2 separate regions of the Homo sapiens genome follow, and region 1 is linked to region 2. A link means that fine-mapping ties the variant in region 2 to the expression of a gene that starts in the linked region. Tissue or cell type: tibial artery. Region 2 holds a variant in brackets; the other region holds the start of a gene. All regions are shown on one strand. Distances are from middle to middle.

Region 1 (8,100 bases), 490 kb before region 2:
ACCCCATCTCTACTAAAAATACAAAAATTAGCCGGGCGTGGTGGTGGACATCTGTAATCCCAGCTACTCAGGAGGCTGAGGCAGGAGAATCACTTGAACCCAGGAGGTGGAGGTTGCAGTGAGCCGAGATTGCACCACTGCGCTCCAGCCCGGGCAACAAGAGTGAGACTCCATCTACATTTAAAAAAAAAAAAAAAAAAAAGCACTAACTCAAGGGGGTCTAGTAGGAAGAAAAGAGACACACACATGCAAATGGTCAAATGTAACCTAAAGGTTGAGAAGTACCACAGTCTAGAAAGTTTTATTAGCATTTTAGGGTCAATCTAAGTAGCTGACATGGGAAACGACGGTGGAAGGTAGAGAAACCTATGCAAATTATTACCATATTAATTATGACTTTATGATTTAGACAGATGGGAGACCAACATGGCCCTAATGCCCACCTCCTTCAGATCTTTTCGCAAATGTCACCTTCCTCAAGAACTTTCCGGACCACCCAATTTGAAAACTGTTCCCCCTTTCACATACTCTGATATCCAAACCCCCTTGCTTTATTTTTCTCAGCAGTATTATCCTCCAGGTAAGGGTCTCTGTCTGTTTTATTCACTACTGTATCCCCAGTGTCTGTGACAGGTGCTCAATAAATATCTTAACAAAGCAGGAAAAGAGAAGAAAGGGCAGGCATCAGTTAAGCAACCATACGATGTGTTACATTTAGAACAAAGTTGGTAATCAAGAAGAGAATGAAAAGATAAAGTGAATGATAGAGGGGGGGTCTTCAGTGTCAAATTAAGCAATTTCTAATGTTCATATGCACTGGAAGATGAAGCTTATTTCTTTCAATCCAAGTGACCGTTTCAAAAAAACACTTTGGCCAATATTACAAATTAAACTAGATCCCTACAGGTCACAAGCATAGCTTCCTATTCTATGCCACAGCAAAATATTAACTATAGTTAACAGTTTACTACTTAGTTTGATATTTGAAGTAAGTCACTAATATTCTTTTTAATTTAAGCATGACTTGATGACGCATGATGTATATAAGAATCGCCTAGTCACTTCTCCAAAAAAACCTGAATATTCTACCATGTTTTTTCTGTTACATCAATAGGAATAAACTGACACAAAAAGAGAGTCAGTGCTCTTTCTTTTAAAAGATACAGACAGGAGGAATGAAACACTAAAGACAATGCAGCAGCAGTACCCAACCCCACATGAAGAAAATCAACACAACAGGTCTTATATCTGCAATTCCTTGATCAAACAAACCAAAGCAAATTAATTCTATAGAAGTACTCCCTAAACACTTATTCTTTTGCTATTTACCAACTCATAAAATAAAAATGTAACACAGTTCATTTCCTGAGCAGTAACTCCACAGTTACCAAAAAGGAGCTCAAATTTCAACTCCAAAATATAGCTCTATAATGCTCCACAAAGCCAAGGTCCTATCTTATAAAAAAAATTAAAGCATTTATTTAAAAACCTGCTTGAAATGCTTACAAACTATAAGCCTCTAATTACTTCAAAGTAAAAAATGAACAAACAAAACCCACACACATCATTAATTTAAAATGCTAATATAAAGTCACTCAAACTGGCCACTCAAAAAACAGACCCAGTGCAACCCCAATAGTAACACCAGTGGCATGGTTTCCCACACTGCTTCAACTTGTAACACAGAGAATTCAGTAAAAATGTATTTTGCTTCTGGCTTGTAGTCAGCTGATTAATTTTTAAGAAGTTCCCAATGACCTTATCGGACCCCATTATTTAACTGCCAACGCTATTATGTACCCAGTTAAATACAAATCTTACACTAGCTCCAAATGTATCATTTATTTTGCCCCATGACAATGTATTGATAAACTATAGTTAATCGGGTCTACTCATTTCCCTTAATTGGTAAAACAGCAGCCATTTTCTGGGGGAAAATTTTTTAATCAATCAAGAAGAAACATTTTATCAGAGGTACATTGTGACTGACTCAGAATGCTGAATGGTTTGCTATGTAAGTCCCCATTTTAATCAATGAAAACCACAGAAAAGGTTCTTGGGGACTGAATTATTAATGGCTACACAATACTTGGCTAATATGGCATAATAAAGTATCATAGCAGGATTTATGTAAAAATTATTCCACAAATTTATTTACTGCTGCCACTATCTACTTAAAAGATGGGTATAAATTTAATCTTTTCCTCATCTGAACTAAATAAATGCCCACTGCTTTGTTTATTTCGTTCTCAAAATAGCCCTCTATGGTATGGTTCTCACAAAGACTGAGGCTGATCCCTGGGACCTGCATACATATATGTACAAGAACTGAAACCGTGAAGTTTTGTCAATTTTGTTTTAACTAGAAAGAAGTACTGCACTGGGTGAATTTCACTTATCGTGGTTTTTGTAAGAATAACGTAATTCAAGAATAAAAGGCATCTCATGCTATTAGAATTAGGAACATCTGTGTCCTATTCCTGACCATTTTTAGGAAAACTAGCAAGCAATCTACTGCCCAAGAAAAAAAATGCAACAAAAAATTAATACCGAACATTTAAAAAAAAGTTAAAAACCTAGAAATATACTTGCCACCCCAACACCCTTTTTCTGCTGTAGTTCTTTGCATTTCACTAGTTTCTTAGCAACCATATAGCACTCAAGTGGGTAAGCACACACAGAACAAGAAAAAACACCATGCTGGTTTTTTTCCTTTAAGATCTAGAACCAACTGTACTAAACCTTGTTCTTTCAACCTAAGAATCACTTAAGACAGGGGTCCAATTTAGATAAATATACCACCCTAAAGGTCAGTGACCAAATTTGGTCAACAAGGGTGCCATCACAGCCGTCATCATTCTTGTCACCGTCAGGAACAACTGTCACCTTGCCATTACCAGGAAGGGAAAGCAACTGGAATATTCCTTTTGTAAGTTCTATTTACAGACTACAAAGAGTCCAACATCATCTTAGTATGATCTTACAACACGATAACAATGGAAGAACCCAAAACATTAAAGGCTTCCCAGAAAAGAACTTTTTGATATTAAAAGCTGATAAACCACAAGAATTTCTAAGACCATGCCACACTCTGGGACAACTCCTAACCACACTGTAAATGTCAGGCATCTATTTTCTGAATACCAATGGCTTCAAGTGTTTTGTTTTGTAATTTTAAAATGCCCAGATTGTTTTTAAACATAGAGACACAGCTTGCAACTCCAAATATGTTTTCACCCAATGGACATCATTTGTTTTCTGATTTATCTATGGAATACTTTCAGCTTTTGGGGGGAAAGAAAATAAATTTTTTTATACTTACAAAAGATATACATGCTGCCAGTAATAAAATCCTAACTAGCAAGTCTTCAAACTGCTCAATCACAAGTTCCAGCAAGGTTTTTCCTGTAAGAAACAAACACATGTGTTTTAACTGTCATCTTACCATCAGCACACCAACAGAGGAAAAAAAACAGAAACAGCATGTTAAGATTACCTTCTTCAGCCGGTAACTCTGTAGAATGTAGAAATTCGTCAAGCAATGTGTCAAGAGGGAGGTTAAAAAAAAAAAGAGAGAGACATTTTAGCACTTCGTTTTTCTAAAAAGAACTGCTACAATTCTAAGCATCAATATCTTTAAAACACAGACCTAGCTATAAGAATATCCGATTTTTTTAGCAGAGGGCATACCACGAAGATATCTCAAGGAAGCATGCACTCTTTGTAATCAATGGCCTGAGGTCTAGCCCTAAGCGTGAAATCACTTCGGGCTCCTGAACCTAGGAGTGGTTTCAGCGATGTCATCACTTCTGCCAGATGTGTAACTTTGGGTAGGACAAGAACGGTCAGAGGCCTTCCAACGACCTCGACTCCTCATAAATCGGCAGGGGACGAGAAAACGTCTTGCCGGGCTCAACCTAGCTGCAGAAGCCACGTCCCTCCCTCCACCGGGGCCGGCTGCTGCTGGAGAGAAGCCTCCGAGCCTTGCGCGCCGAAAAGGTCGAGGGCCCGAGAAGCGAAGAGGTCCAGGGAAGGCGAGGCGAGGACCGCAGCCCCTTTCTCTCCCGCGGGGCCGGCGCGCTGGCCCGACCCTCCGCCCGCAGCTGTCGGCGGGCGCGGAGCCGAAGCCCACGAGGTGGAGCCCGGTCAGCCATCTTCCCTGGCTCTCCCGGCCGCGCCGGGCCCCTGCAGCGGAGCGCCCTGCACCTACCGTTGGAGCCCCATCTCTCCTTAAGCTTCTTGACCTGTTCCAGGCTCAGCCCCGTACTCTCGTTGACGCCGAAGTGGCCCAGCACCTCCTCCACCGTCTTGGTGTGCGCGTTCTCCATGGCTTCGGGGGCCCGGCCGGCCTCGCCTCCCGTCCCCGCGGCCTCCTCGCCTCCGCCTCGCACTCCGGCCGCGGGCTCGTGCCACCCCGGGAGCCCAGGCGCGGACGGGCTCTCCCCTCCTCCTCTTGCGGCCGCTTCCGCCTCGCCGGGCGCTGAATCACCCCGCGCCCCCTCCCCCAGACAACCGCCCCTCGCGCGGCCCCGAGCTCCGCAGGGCGGGTTGGGGGCTCCTGACCCACCCTCCCTCCCCTCGCCAGAAGGGAGGGCCTCCCTCGCCCTCAGCCGCCCGCCGGGAGGGCAGGCCGCGGCCCCCGAGCCCCCTCCCCGCTCTCTTGAGGCGATCAGAGGCCCCGCCCGGGCCGGAGGAGGGGGCGCCCGGCAGACCACTGAGGGCGGAACGCGGCGAGGGAGGCGAGCCGGCGGGGCGGTGCGCGGCGCGCTCGCCCGGGTCCCTCAGCGCCGCACGCCCGACAGCGGCGGAGGAAACTGCGGCGAAGGAAAAGGAGGTGGCGTCGGGGACGGCTCCGCGGCGGCTGCTCTAATAGCATTTATCGGCCGCTGCCTCCCCTTTCGCCGCCGCCGCGGCATGTGGACGCCGCTCATTGGCCGAGAGCGCCCAGCGCGGCGCGGGCGGCGCGGCCCCGCCCCCTCCTCCCGGCTCCCTCCTCCCGCGCGCCTGGCGCCCACGCTGCCGCGCAGGCCCCGCCCCCTCCCGCGCGCCGCCCCTAGGAACCCGGATCGAGGCCGCGCGCGCCGCGGTCGCGGGGCTGGCGGAGGGGAAGCTGGGTACCCTCTTCTGTGCCTGCGGTTCTCTGACCCACCCACCTGCAGACGCAGGGTGGGGCGCTCACAGTGGGCACGCTGCTCTGGGGCCGGTGGGCGGATGGTTGGAAGGCGAGGCCGAGGAGCTGGGAGCGCGGTCCACGCGGGGCGTCTCGAGGCGCCCTCGGGCTGATGTCCTTGGCTCGCCTCCTCGCCCTCGGTCGCCCGGGCTGCGCTCTGCATCCTAATCTGGCTCCTTCAGAGCCCCCCTCAGAAACCAAGGGGAGGAATTCCGCAGTTCACTTCCCACACAACCCAAATCCTTCATCTGTCGCCTCGGGAACACCGCATCCTACACCCCCTGCCGCCAGCTCCTTCGCACGCCAGCCCCGATTCTTCCCCAGCGGGTTCTGGGCCCTGACGAGGGAACCCCCCTCGCGGGGGGGAGGGAGAAGAGTTGATTTTATTATTAATAGCTGACGCAGCGCTTGATAGGTGTCTGCAGGGCAGTCACAGTTCACGCCGCTGGAGCTGCCACACAGCAGCTAGACTTGGGCTAGGAGGTGCTTCGCTGTGGCTTTCAGATGAAGGCCATTTCATAGACTCACTTCCCTCGACAGGAGAAAAGGGGACTTGAATCCAAAGCTGCTCTTAAACCACAGATGATTTGCTCTGCTCGGGAGGACAAAGCGCAGGTCACAGCAAGATAAAGGGAATTTTGCCAATATAAAGAAGCTACATTACTTAACAAGGGGATGGGAAATTGCATGGAATTCATGAACAAAACATGAACATATTCTCTTCACAAAGAAGAGCAGCTTTCTTCACGGAGTAGGTTGCAGAATGAAGCAATTAGTCCACTTTTGTGTTTAACAATAACGCACCATCCGCATGAGCAAAAGCAGAGCAGAAAAATCACCTCAGTTGTCTCAAGTGGCTGGGCTTCAGGACTTAAGATAAATTCCTTCAGCAGATGCAAATTACAGTGCATCACCAGCTGAAAAAATCAGGCACGTCATGTCATTTAATTATTTCCAAGGAGTGGACGTTGGCATGTAGTTTTGATTGATACTTGGAAAAGAACCAACAAAACCCTACACGAAACAAACAAACAAAAAATTATACTATATGGCAACGCACTGAGAGAAGCCAGGTGGAAACTGGTTAGGTCACAGGATCAGAGCCGCTTCAAGAGGGGCACGTGAGTGCACGGTGGGAGTGTGGTCATGGAGGGCTGGCTGTTGTTGCCCTCTGAGACCAGCTCTGCACCATTTCGTACCAATTCTTCTCCCTTACCTCCTCTGTCTCTTTCAGGACCGATAGAAGCACTGCAGGCAGGAGAAGGATGGTTTACCTTTCTCAGCCTGGAAATTAGCTTAGGCATTTGATGTTGAATATTCTGTGCCACTGTCACTGCTTGGGGTTGTAAGCACCTCTGGTGCAATTATGAGCTTCTGGAGGAGTTCCTGACCTCAGCCTTTGTATGGAATGCTCTTCCCACAGATCTTCTTCACTTGTGTCGTTCTCTTTCCATTCAGATCGCAGCTTACATGTCCCCTCCTCAGAGATGTCTTTGCTGTCTAAAGTGGCTACCCAGCCACAGTGGCTCACGTCTGTAATCCCAGCATTTTGGGAGGCTGAGGCAGGAGGATCCCTTGAGCCCAGGAGTTTGAGACCAGCCTGGGCAATATAGCGAGACTCCATCTCTACTAAAAAAAAAAAAGAAAAAAATTAGCTGGGCGTGGTGGCCTGAACCTTTAGTCCCAGCTACTCAGGAGGCTAAAGAGAGAGGATCGCTTGAACCCAGGAGGTCAAGACTGCAGTGATCTGTGATCACGCCACTGCACTCCAGCCTGAGCAACAACAGAGTGAGACCTTGTCTCAAAAAAAAAATTAAATAATAAATAAATTAAAAAGTGGCTACTCTCGGCAATTCACCTTCCATCACATTTTTCAGTTTTCTTTTCTTCTTTTTTTTCCTTTGAGACAGAGTCTCTCTCTGTCACCCAGGCTGGAGGACAGCAGCACAATCCCAGCTCACCACAACCTCGGCCTCCTGGGTTCAAGCAGTTCTTGTGCCTCCGCCTCCCAAGTAGCTGGGACTACAGGTGCACGCCACCATGCCTGCCTCATTTTTGTATTTTTAGTAGAGATGGGGTTTCACCATGTTGGCCAGGCTGGCTTCGAACTGACCTCAGGTAATCTGCCTGCCTCGGCCTCCCAAAGTGCTGGGATTACAGGCATGAGCCACCGTGCCCGGTCAGTTTTCTTCACAGTGCTTACTTGTGATGTTGTATTTTGGTTTAGCTGTTAACTGCTTGTCTCCTAGTGTCTCATGGAGCTCTAGGACAGAAGCTCCATAAGAACAGGGCCTGTCCATCTTGTCCATCCTCAGTACAAAGAACAGTCCCTAGTCTATGCTCCTCATTTATTAAATGCCTGCTGTTTGAATGAATGAATTAGTCCCACCATCCCTAGCCCATAAGTGACTTGCAAAGGGCCTCCCCCATAGGAAGGCCTCAGCAAATTTTCAGTGAACTCAAGTTCATTGATTTCCAATTTGTGAAATAAACTAGAGGGCCTCTCTGAACTACCTGCCTCATGAGAATGACTGTGAAGTGTAGTCAGTTTAAAACAAACAGACAAAAACAAAGCTAGACAGCATTACAGGTTTCTCAGAAAGAAGGAAGGTTCAAGTTCACATTGGTACTGTTACCACGTTGCCATTGCCCTCCTAGACTGTTCTCTGCAAGCTTTCTATTTACTGGAGGCTGGAATACTCTCTTAAGCTGAAACAGTGTGATTTTAAGCCCAGAATTGGCCCCCTTAGACATCATCATAACAATTATGCTCTTGGTTCCTCAACCTGCTGGTGTCTCTGAAAGCTGTTGTTGATGGGTTGCCAAAATTTATCAGAAACGCAGTCTCCCAAAGGCAGAAATATCTAGTTTCTCTCATGTAGAAATAAACTTGTGCTTAATTTATTTTATGCATCGTGTTGTACTTGCTT
Region 2 (8,088 bases):
CTAGGATTTTTAAAGCATCTTATGAATCTAAAAACTTCTCACATTCAGGATTCCACAAACTAGGTATCCTTCAGGCTTGAGATTCTGCTTCTGCGATGGATCCCAGGGAATATCCAAGGACCTATTTGCTGCCCTTGGGTGTCGCTGGGCAGGACTCTGCCTGCATCCCCCACCCCCCAATTTCTACGTCCTGCACCCTACCCCCACCCCCAGCAAGCCTGGCTAGGTCTCTGCTCCGCCAGGACCCTGGATGACCGTCCCCTGCCCCCAGGTCAGACAGCCCTGCACATCGCCATTGAGCGTCGCTGCAAACACTACGTGGAACTTCTCGTGGCCCAGGGAGCTGATGTCCACGCCCAGGCCCGTGGGCGCTTCTTCCAGCCCAAGGATGAGGGGGGCTACTTCTACTTTGGTAAGGAGGGGCCTGGTGGGGGCTGACAGCATGCTGGAGAAGCATGGCGGGAGATAGCATGATACTGGTTGGTGTCTGCAGCCCTGACCATCACCCAGACACCCAGGGCCACTCTGGCCATGAGCGCAGGCAGCACTCTGGACCACAGGCTGCACGTTGGTCTTGGTCACAGGGCCGTTGCCTCTGAGGTGTAAGTGCCATGGGGAGTACCATGGACCTGGATTCAGATCCTCACTCCAGCCAGGCACGGTGTCTCACACCTGTCATCCCAGCACTTTGGGAGGTCAAGGCAGGAGGATCGCTTGAGGGCAGGAGTTTGAGACCAGCCTAGGCAACATAGCAATACCCTGTCTCTTTTAAACATTTAAAAAATGGCTGGGCACGGTGGCTCATGCCTGTAATCCCAGCACTTTGGGAGGATGAGGCAGGTGGATCACCTGAGGTCAAGAGTTCAAGACCAGCCTGGCCAACAAGATGGTGAAACCCATCTCTACAAAAATAACAAAAATTAGCCGGGCATGGTGGTGGGTGCCTGTAATCCCAGCTACTTGGGAGGCTGAGGCAGGAGAATTGCTTGAACCTGGGGGACAGAGGTTGCAATGAGCCGAGATTTCCCCATTGCACTCCAGCTTGGGTGACAGAGTGAGACTCTGTCTCAAAAAATAAATAAATAAATAAATAAATAAATAAGTTAGATGGCATGGTGGCATGTGCTTGAAGTCCCAGCTGCTTGGGAGGCCGAGGCTGGAGGATCACTTGAACCTAGGAGTTCGAGGCTGCAGTAAGCCATGATTGCACCACTGCACTCCAGCCTGGAAAATAGAGCAAGACCCCGTCTTTAAAAAGCAAAAAGAAAAGAACAAAAAAAAAGCCAAATCCTCACTCTGCACTTTCCAGGCATGTGACCTCACTTCCCTGAGCCTCACCTTCCCCAGCTGTGCAGTGGGGATCACGAGAGGCCCTTGGGCTGTGATGTCAGCGCCCAGCTCTGTATTGTCTGTGTGCTTTAATCTGGTTTATGCTGGGACCAACAGCCCCATCACCAGGCCCAAAGCCCACCACTGCCGTTGTCATCACTGGACTCATGAAATATTTTGAATTTTGCCCCTGCTTAAAGGCATTCATTATGTGCAGCTCAGGGACAAAGTCACACAAAGAATTCCATCATCAGCTGGGCGCGGTGGCTCACGCCTGTAATCCCAGCACTTTGGGAGGCCGAGGTCGGCGGATCACTTGAGGTCAGGAGTTTGAGACCAGCCTGGCCAACATGGCGAAATCCTGCCTCTACTAAAAATACAAAAATTAGCCAGGTGTGGTGGCGTGCGCCTGTAATCCCAGCTACTCGGCTGAGGCACAAGAACTGCTTGCACCCGGGAGGTGGAGGTTGCAATGAGCCGAGATTGTGCCACTGCACTCCAGCCTAGGCGACAGAGTGAGACTTTGTCTCAAAAAAAAAAAAAAAAAGAATTCCATCATTGGATGTGTCCAGTCCCTCACAGCCTCCAAATCGCGTGGCTGTGCCCTTAACTAGCCACACCCCATCTCCCTGGCATCACCCAGAGAAACGTGCAGTTCATATCCACTGCTGGTGCTGTCTCCGTCATTATCCTCAGAGCGCCACGGTGTCCGTCCCCCGAGTGTCTGCAGGCAGAGTCCCACCCTGGGCCCCCTTCGCTGACCTCCCACCCTTCACCCTGGCCCGCAGGGGAGCTGCCCCTGTCGCTGGCTGCCTGCACCAACCAGCCCCACATTGTCAACTACCTGACGGAGAACCCCCACAAGAAGGCGGACATGCGGCGCCAGGACTCGCGAGGCAACACAGTGCTGCATGCGCTGGTGGCCATTGCTGACAACACCCGTGAGAACACCAAGTTTGTTACCAAGATGTACGACCTGCTGCTGCTCAAGTGTGCCCGCCTCTTCCCCGACAGCAACCTGGAGGCCGTGCTCAACAACGACGGCCTCTCGCCCCTCATGATGGCTGCCAAGACGGGCAAGATTGGGGTGAGTGTGCGGCTGGGGGCACAGCTGATCCACCTACTCGTACCCCTCTGCACACACACACGAGGGTCTGCTGCTGGTATTCATTATTAATACGTGCATGCACCTCCCAACATGCCAACCCCAGTGTGCAGATGTCCCAGCTCAAGAACCTGCTATGGCTCCCTAGTGTCCAGCCAAGCTCCTTAGCTTCATCCCCGAGCCTCTCGCCTCATGTCACCCTACTGGATGTTCACCACTCCACCCCCACCAGCCAGGATGAGCCACTGATAAGAAACTGAGTCCCCGGGCCCTAGCCCAGCGGTGCTCCCAGCCTCAAACCTGTTGAATGGCCCTGCCCCAGTTCCTTCCCTTTTCTGGGCCGCGCAGCATGGGGCCTGGAGAAGGGTTTCTCAACTTCAGCATGATTATTTTGGGCGGCAGGCTCTTTGTGGTGGGGACCGTCTTGTGCTATTGCCAGACATTGATCTGCATCCCGGGCCTCTACCCACCAGATGCCAGGAACACCTCCCCTTACACTTGTGACCACCAAAAATATCTCCAGAACATTGCTGAATTGTCCTCTGGGGGGCACCATCGCTGGATTGGGAACCAAGTCTGGAGTATGCTAGAGGCAGGAGCACCTGTCCAAGCCCTGGCGCTACCACTTCCCAGTGTGTGACCTCAGACATCTCATTTCCCTTTTCTGTGCCTCAGTTTCCTTGTCTGTAAAATGGGGATATAAGAGTGTCCTCTGGTGTGGTGTTGTGACAAATGCGGTGATCCACATAAGGCTCTTAGGAAGGAGCCTGGGAGAAGCAGTAAGTGTCACTTACATGTCTGTAATGCCAGCTAGTTGGGAGGCTGAGGTGAGAGGATCGTTTAAGTCCAGCCTGGATTATTTGAGATCCCAAATAAATAAAAACCAAAATAAAAAAAAATGTAGCAAAAATTACTAAAATTGCAATTATACCATGGCCCTGAGGCAGTAGAAAGGCTCCAGTTTAAATCCTGGCTTTGGCTAGGCTCAGTGGCTCGTGTCTGTAATCCTAGCACTTTGGGAGGCTGAGGTGGGAGGAGCACTTGAGCCCAGGAGGTTGAGGCTGCAATGAGCTGTGATAGTGCCATTGCACTCCAGCCTGGGCAACAGAGCCAGACCCTGTCTCAAAAAACCCCAAAATCCTGGCTGTGCACAGTGGCTCATGCCTGTAATCCCAGCACTTTGGGAGGCCGAGGTGGGCGGATCACCTGAGGTCAGGAGTTCAAGACCAGCCTGGCCAACATGGTGAAACCCCGTCTCTACTAAAAATACAAAAATATTAGCTGGGTGTGATAGTGGGCACCTGTAATCCCAGCTACTCAGGAGGCTGAGGCAGGAGAATTGCTTGAACCTAGGAGGAGAGGGTTGCAGTGTGCTGAGATCGCGCCACTGCACTCCAGCCTGGGTGACAGAGAGAGACTCTGTCTCAAAACAAAAACCCCAAAATCCTAACATTGCCTGACCTTGGGCAATTCCCACCCCTCTCTGTGCCTCCGCTTCCCTGTGTGTAAGCCAGGGAAGGAGGAGTGGTAACAGGAAGGACCGCATGTGATCGTCAGTATTATAATTCACATGTCATTAAGATGGATTCATTGCTATTTTAACGGCATGAAGAAGATATTCATTACAATTAAGATGTTGAAGGCTCATCCAGGTTCTGTCTGGCTCCAGCTGACTGGTTAAGTGGCTTCTGGAACACCCTTCGTTTTTCCCAGCCTCCATTCTTTATCTGTAAACCAAGATAATAAGAGCAAGAATTAAACAAGATGAGGAAAGGGTCCTCCAGCAGCCGGTGCTTAGCTGTTTTCTGGGGAGGCGTCATGTGCTGAGCTGGGCCCAGCCCTGGGGGTCTTTCCAGTGTGAGCCCCCTGACCCTCCTGGCC[C/T]CCTGTGCAGATCTTTCAGCACATCATCCGGCGGGAGGTGACGGATGAGGACACACGGCACCTGTCCCGCAAGTTCAAGGACTGGGCCTATGGGCCAGTGTATTCCTCGCTTTATGACCTCTCCTCCCTGGACACGTGTGGGGAAGAGGCCTCCGTGCTGGAGATCCTGGTGTACAACAGCAAGATTGAGGTGGGCTCCAGGAGGGGGCATGGGGTGTGAGGAAGGAGGGGCAGGGCTGGGAGTAGGGACAGGGCCCTGGGGCTGGGCTGGGGGAGACAGCCCCAGCCTCTAGGACCCAACGTGGTGGGTCTGTTGGCTGAATGCAAGAGAAGGTGCCAACTAAGTGCCCAGAACAGTGTCTGCCATGTGAGGAAATGAGCAAGACTTGTGGGAAGATGGACTTTTGGGGCAGGTAGGACTGGGTTGGGATCCTGGCTCTGTAACTTACATGCTGTGTGTCTCAGGACAAGTGGCTCCACCTCTCTGGGTCTCAGCTTCTTCATTTGTAACCTGGGGATAAGGATCATGGATATCCCATGGGGTTCTTGGGAGGACCAAAGAGGTTAATTTTAGAATGGCTTGGCACAGAGTAAACATTATGTCAGCTTTTACTACTCATGGTTGTTATATGAACTTTTGAAAGCTCTTTTTTTTCGGTCAGGCATGGTGGCTTATGCCTGTAATTCTAGCATTTTGGGGAGCCAAGGTGGGCGGATTGCTTGAAGCCAGGAGTTTGAGACTAGCCTGGGCAATATGGCGAAACCCCGTCTCTACCAAAAAAAAATAATAAAAATGAAAATTAGCTAGGCATGGTGGTGCGAGCCTGTAGTCCCAGCTACTTGGGAGGCGAGGTGGGAGGATCACCTGAGCCTGGGGAGGTCGAGGCTTCAGTGAGCCGAGATCATGCCACTGCACTCCAGCCTGGGTGACAGAGTGAGATCCTGTCTCAAAATAAACAAACAAACAAACAAACAAAAAACCAAGCTTTTTTTTCCCTACTTAGCAGTATTTTGTGAACGTCGTTCTGTACTTTTAAATATTCTTTGGTAATATTGTCGCTGCATGTAAACATACCATATTCAAATGAACTGTTCTCTTATTGCTGGTCGCTTGGGTTTGTTTCTGCCTTTATCAGGAATAACACTATAAGAGCATCTCTGTGGCTGCTTTATTGCACAAATCATGATTATAGAGAAACTCAAGTTAATAAAGGGCTAGGAAGCTATAAAAATGGAGCAGAAAATGCTGGGGACTGGGTGCAGGTGGTCTTCCTTCTAGCCCTGCCCTGTGGCTTACTGGTCTGTGAGCTTGGCTTCCTTGCAAGACCTCATTTCCCTCATTTTTTGAATTAGTGACCATCTTGATTTAAATTAGTGGTGGCAGGAGGTTTAGCATCTCAGGTGCAAACTGATTGATTAGTAGTGTCTACCCAGGGAACTGTATGAATACAATTGTGCAGGGCTCAATTATTGATGTCTGCCCTGGGTTCAGAATTGGAGAATTGTGGTGAGTCAATCATTTATCATCTTTGGGCAAAATTTCTCAATCTTTCTCTCTGAATCAGAATTTCTGAGAGCGGAGGCCAGGATTTATACTTGCAGCAAGTTACATAAATTATTTTGCGGCCAGCAGCTTGGTACTATCCACAGATTGGAGTTTGGGAACCATGAGAATAAATGTCTTTTTTTCTTTTTTGAGATGGAGTCTCACTCTTGTTGCCCAGGCTGGAGTGCAGTAGTGCGATCTAGGCTCACTGCAATCTCCGCCTCCCAGGTTCAAGTGATTCTCCTGCCTCAGCCTTAGGAGTAGCTGGGATTACAGGTGTGCACCACCACGCCCGGCTAATTGTTGTGTTTTTAGTGGAGACAGGGTTTCACCACATTGGCCAGGCTGATCTTGAACTGCTGACCTTAGGTGATCCGCCTGTCTTGGCCTCCCAAAGTGCTAGGATTACAGGCATGAGCCACTGCGGCCGGCCTGAAAATAAATGTCTTTTAAGGGACTTTCCAGTTCCGAGTTCTGTGATGCTAGAATAGGGTGGAAAGGTACATTGAGGCAGAATTGGGCAGCTGAATCCATTCATGAATCCGTGAATGCAGCTGAGGAATGGATGGAAAGAGAAAGCGCTGTCCGGGTGGAGGGTGGGGGAAGGCACACCCGAGGCAGCCTGCCTGGACCCCCCACCCATCTCAGGAAGGCAGCCCCCGACCACCCTGCCTCTCTTAGAACCGCCACGAGATGCTGGCTGTGGAGCCCATCAATGAACTGCTGCGGGACAAGTGGCGCAAGTTCGGGGCCGTCTCCTTCTACATCAACGTGGTCTCCTACCTGTGTGCCATGGTCATCTTCACTCTCACCGCCTACTACCAGCCGCTGGAGGGCACAGTGAGTGCCCGGGGACCGGGCAGGGGCTGGGGCAGGCACTGGGCTGAGCCATGCAGGACTGGGGCACAACCTCATCCTTCTGGGTCCCCTGTAGGGGGACCCGGAGAAGGTTTAGGAACAGGTTGGGGAGGCGCCCTCCAGCATCCACGGGTGGCCCTGAGCTGGGAGGAGGAAGACTCAGGAGGAAGAGAGTGAAGGAGGAGGCTCCATGGGATGCCGATGTTTCGGGCCTGGGGGAACATCTGGATTGGGGGCCAGATGTTGGAGGGGCTGGGTGACGACCTGTGTGCCCTTGCTGCTCCCCAGCCGCCGTACCCTTACCGCACCACGGTGGACTACCTGCGGCTGGCTGGCGAGGTCATTACGCTCTTCACTGGGGTCCTGTTCTTCTTCACCAACGTAAGTGCCTGGCCCCCGTGCCCCCCACCCTGCCTGCCCTCCTCTTCTCTTCCTGCACCTCTTTTCTCTCCCTCTTTTTCTCTTCTCTCTCCTCCAAATGGTCCTTCTCCTTTCCTTCCTCCTTTTATTTTCCCATTTCTCTTCTACCTCCTCCAATCCCACGTTCTCCATCTCTGCTTTTTTCTCCTTTTCTAACAGGAAAGAGTCCTTTGTCTTTTCTCTGTACCAGCCTCTGCCTCCCTCTCTTCTATCCCTTTCTCTGTCTCCTCTCTCCTCCTCTCCTCTCCTGCTGGCCCCACCCCTTTCACGTGCCCCCTCCTGTCTTCCAGATCAAAGACTTGTTCATGAAGAAATGCCCTGGAGTGAATTCTCTCTTCATTGATGGCTCCTTCCAGCTGCTCTAGTGAGTAGAGGTCCCTGGGCCGGCAGCTTCTGGGTGAGGAAGGTGGGTTTGGGCTGCTAGGTCGTCCAGATTCAGGAGAGAGGTGATTCTGTTAGAAATGAATGCACCCAACCTGGGCAGCTCTAACCCAAAGTCAGGACAAAGCCACAAACAATAGGGTCTTCTGGTTCAAGAAAAATTCTGATTGCTAGGGAGTTATCATATACAACATGGATAGAAATAATTTTAACCTCTTATGCTGGTGAATGATTGCTAATGTCTGCCTGAAGTGCCATGTTAAGAATTTTGCACCTGTGTCTGTGTTTAGTGGGAAAGAGTTGGGATTGATTAATGATGTCTGCCTGGGACAGAGAATGAGAGAGTTACTGAGTGTGTGTTACCTCTTTCACATTTCCCTTAGAGTTGGAGAATGATGAAATTCACTTAGCCACAAAATCTCCACTGAACACCACTAAATCTTTCTTTAGCAATTCCAAGGGGCATCACTTCAGGATCCTGTGGGACCTCAGGATTAATTGCCAGCTAATTGAATGTTCTTGTTAACAGAATGCTGGGGAACCCTGCTAATCCACTTTGTTTCTTTTC

What was found. PIP is the estimated chance that this variant, and not a neighbour inherited with it, causes the effect.
Region 1: it holds the start of ATP2A2, and the variant in region 2 is fine-mapped to the expression of ATP2A2 in tibial artery (GTEx, PIP 0.91).

The regions. Positions count from the first base shown.
Region 1 is chr12:110,278,018-110,286,117 of GRCh38, reverse strand. ATP2A2 (ATPase sarcoplasmic/endoplasmic reticulum Ca2+ transporting 2) reads right to left here and starts at 4,871. Exons shown (of 20, transcript NM_170665.4): 1 at 4,211-4,871; 2 at 3,497-3,514; 3 at 3,323-3,405. The coding sequence starts at 4,328. RefSeq lists enhancers at 3,422-4,176, 5,294-5,363 and silencers at 4,004-4,513, 4,604-5,203.
Region 2 is chr12:109,792,942-109,801,029 of GRCh38, reverse strand. TRPV4 (transient receptor potential cation channel subfamily V member 4) reads left to right here. Exons shown (of 16, transcript NM_021625.5): 5 at 272-412; 6 at 2,118-2,416; 7 at 4,326-4,505; 8 at 6,543-6,701; 9 at 7,008-7,100; 10 at 7,430-7,503. Among named protein-coding and RNA genes, the nearest start is that of FAM222A-AS1, 23 kb to the right of the region's middle. The variant C/T (reference allele first, on the strand shown) is at 4,316.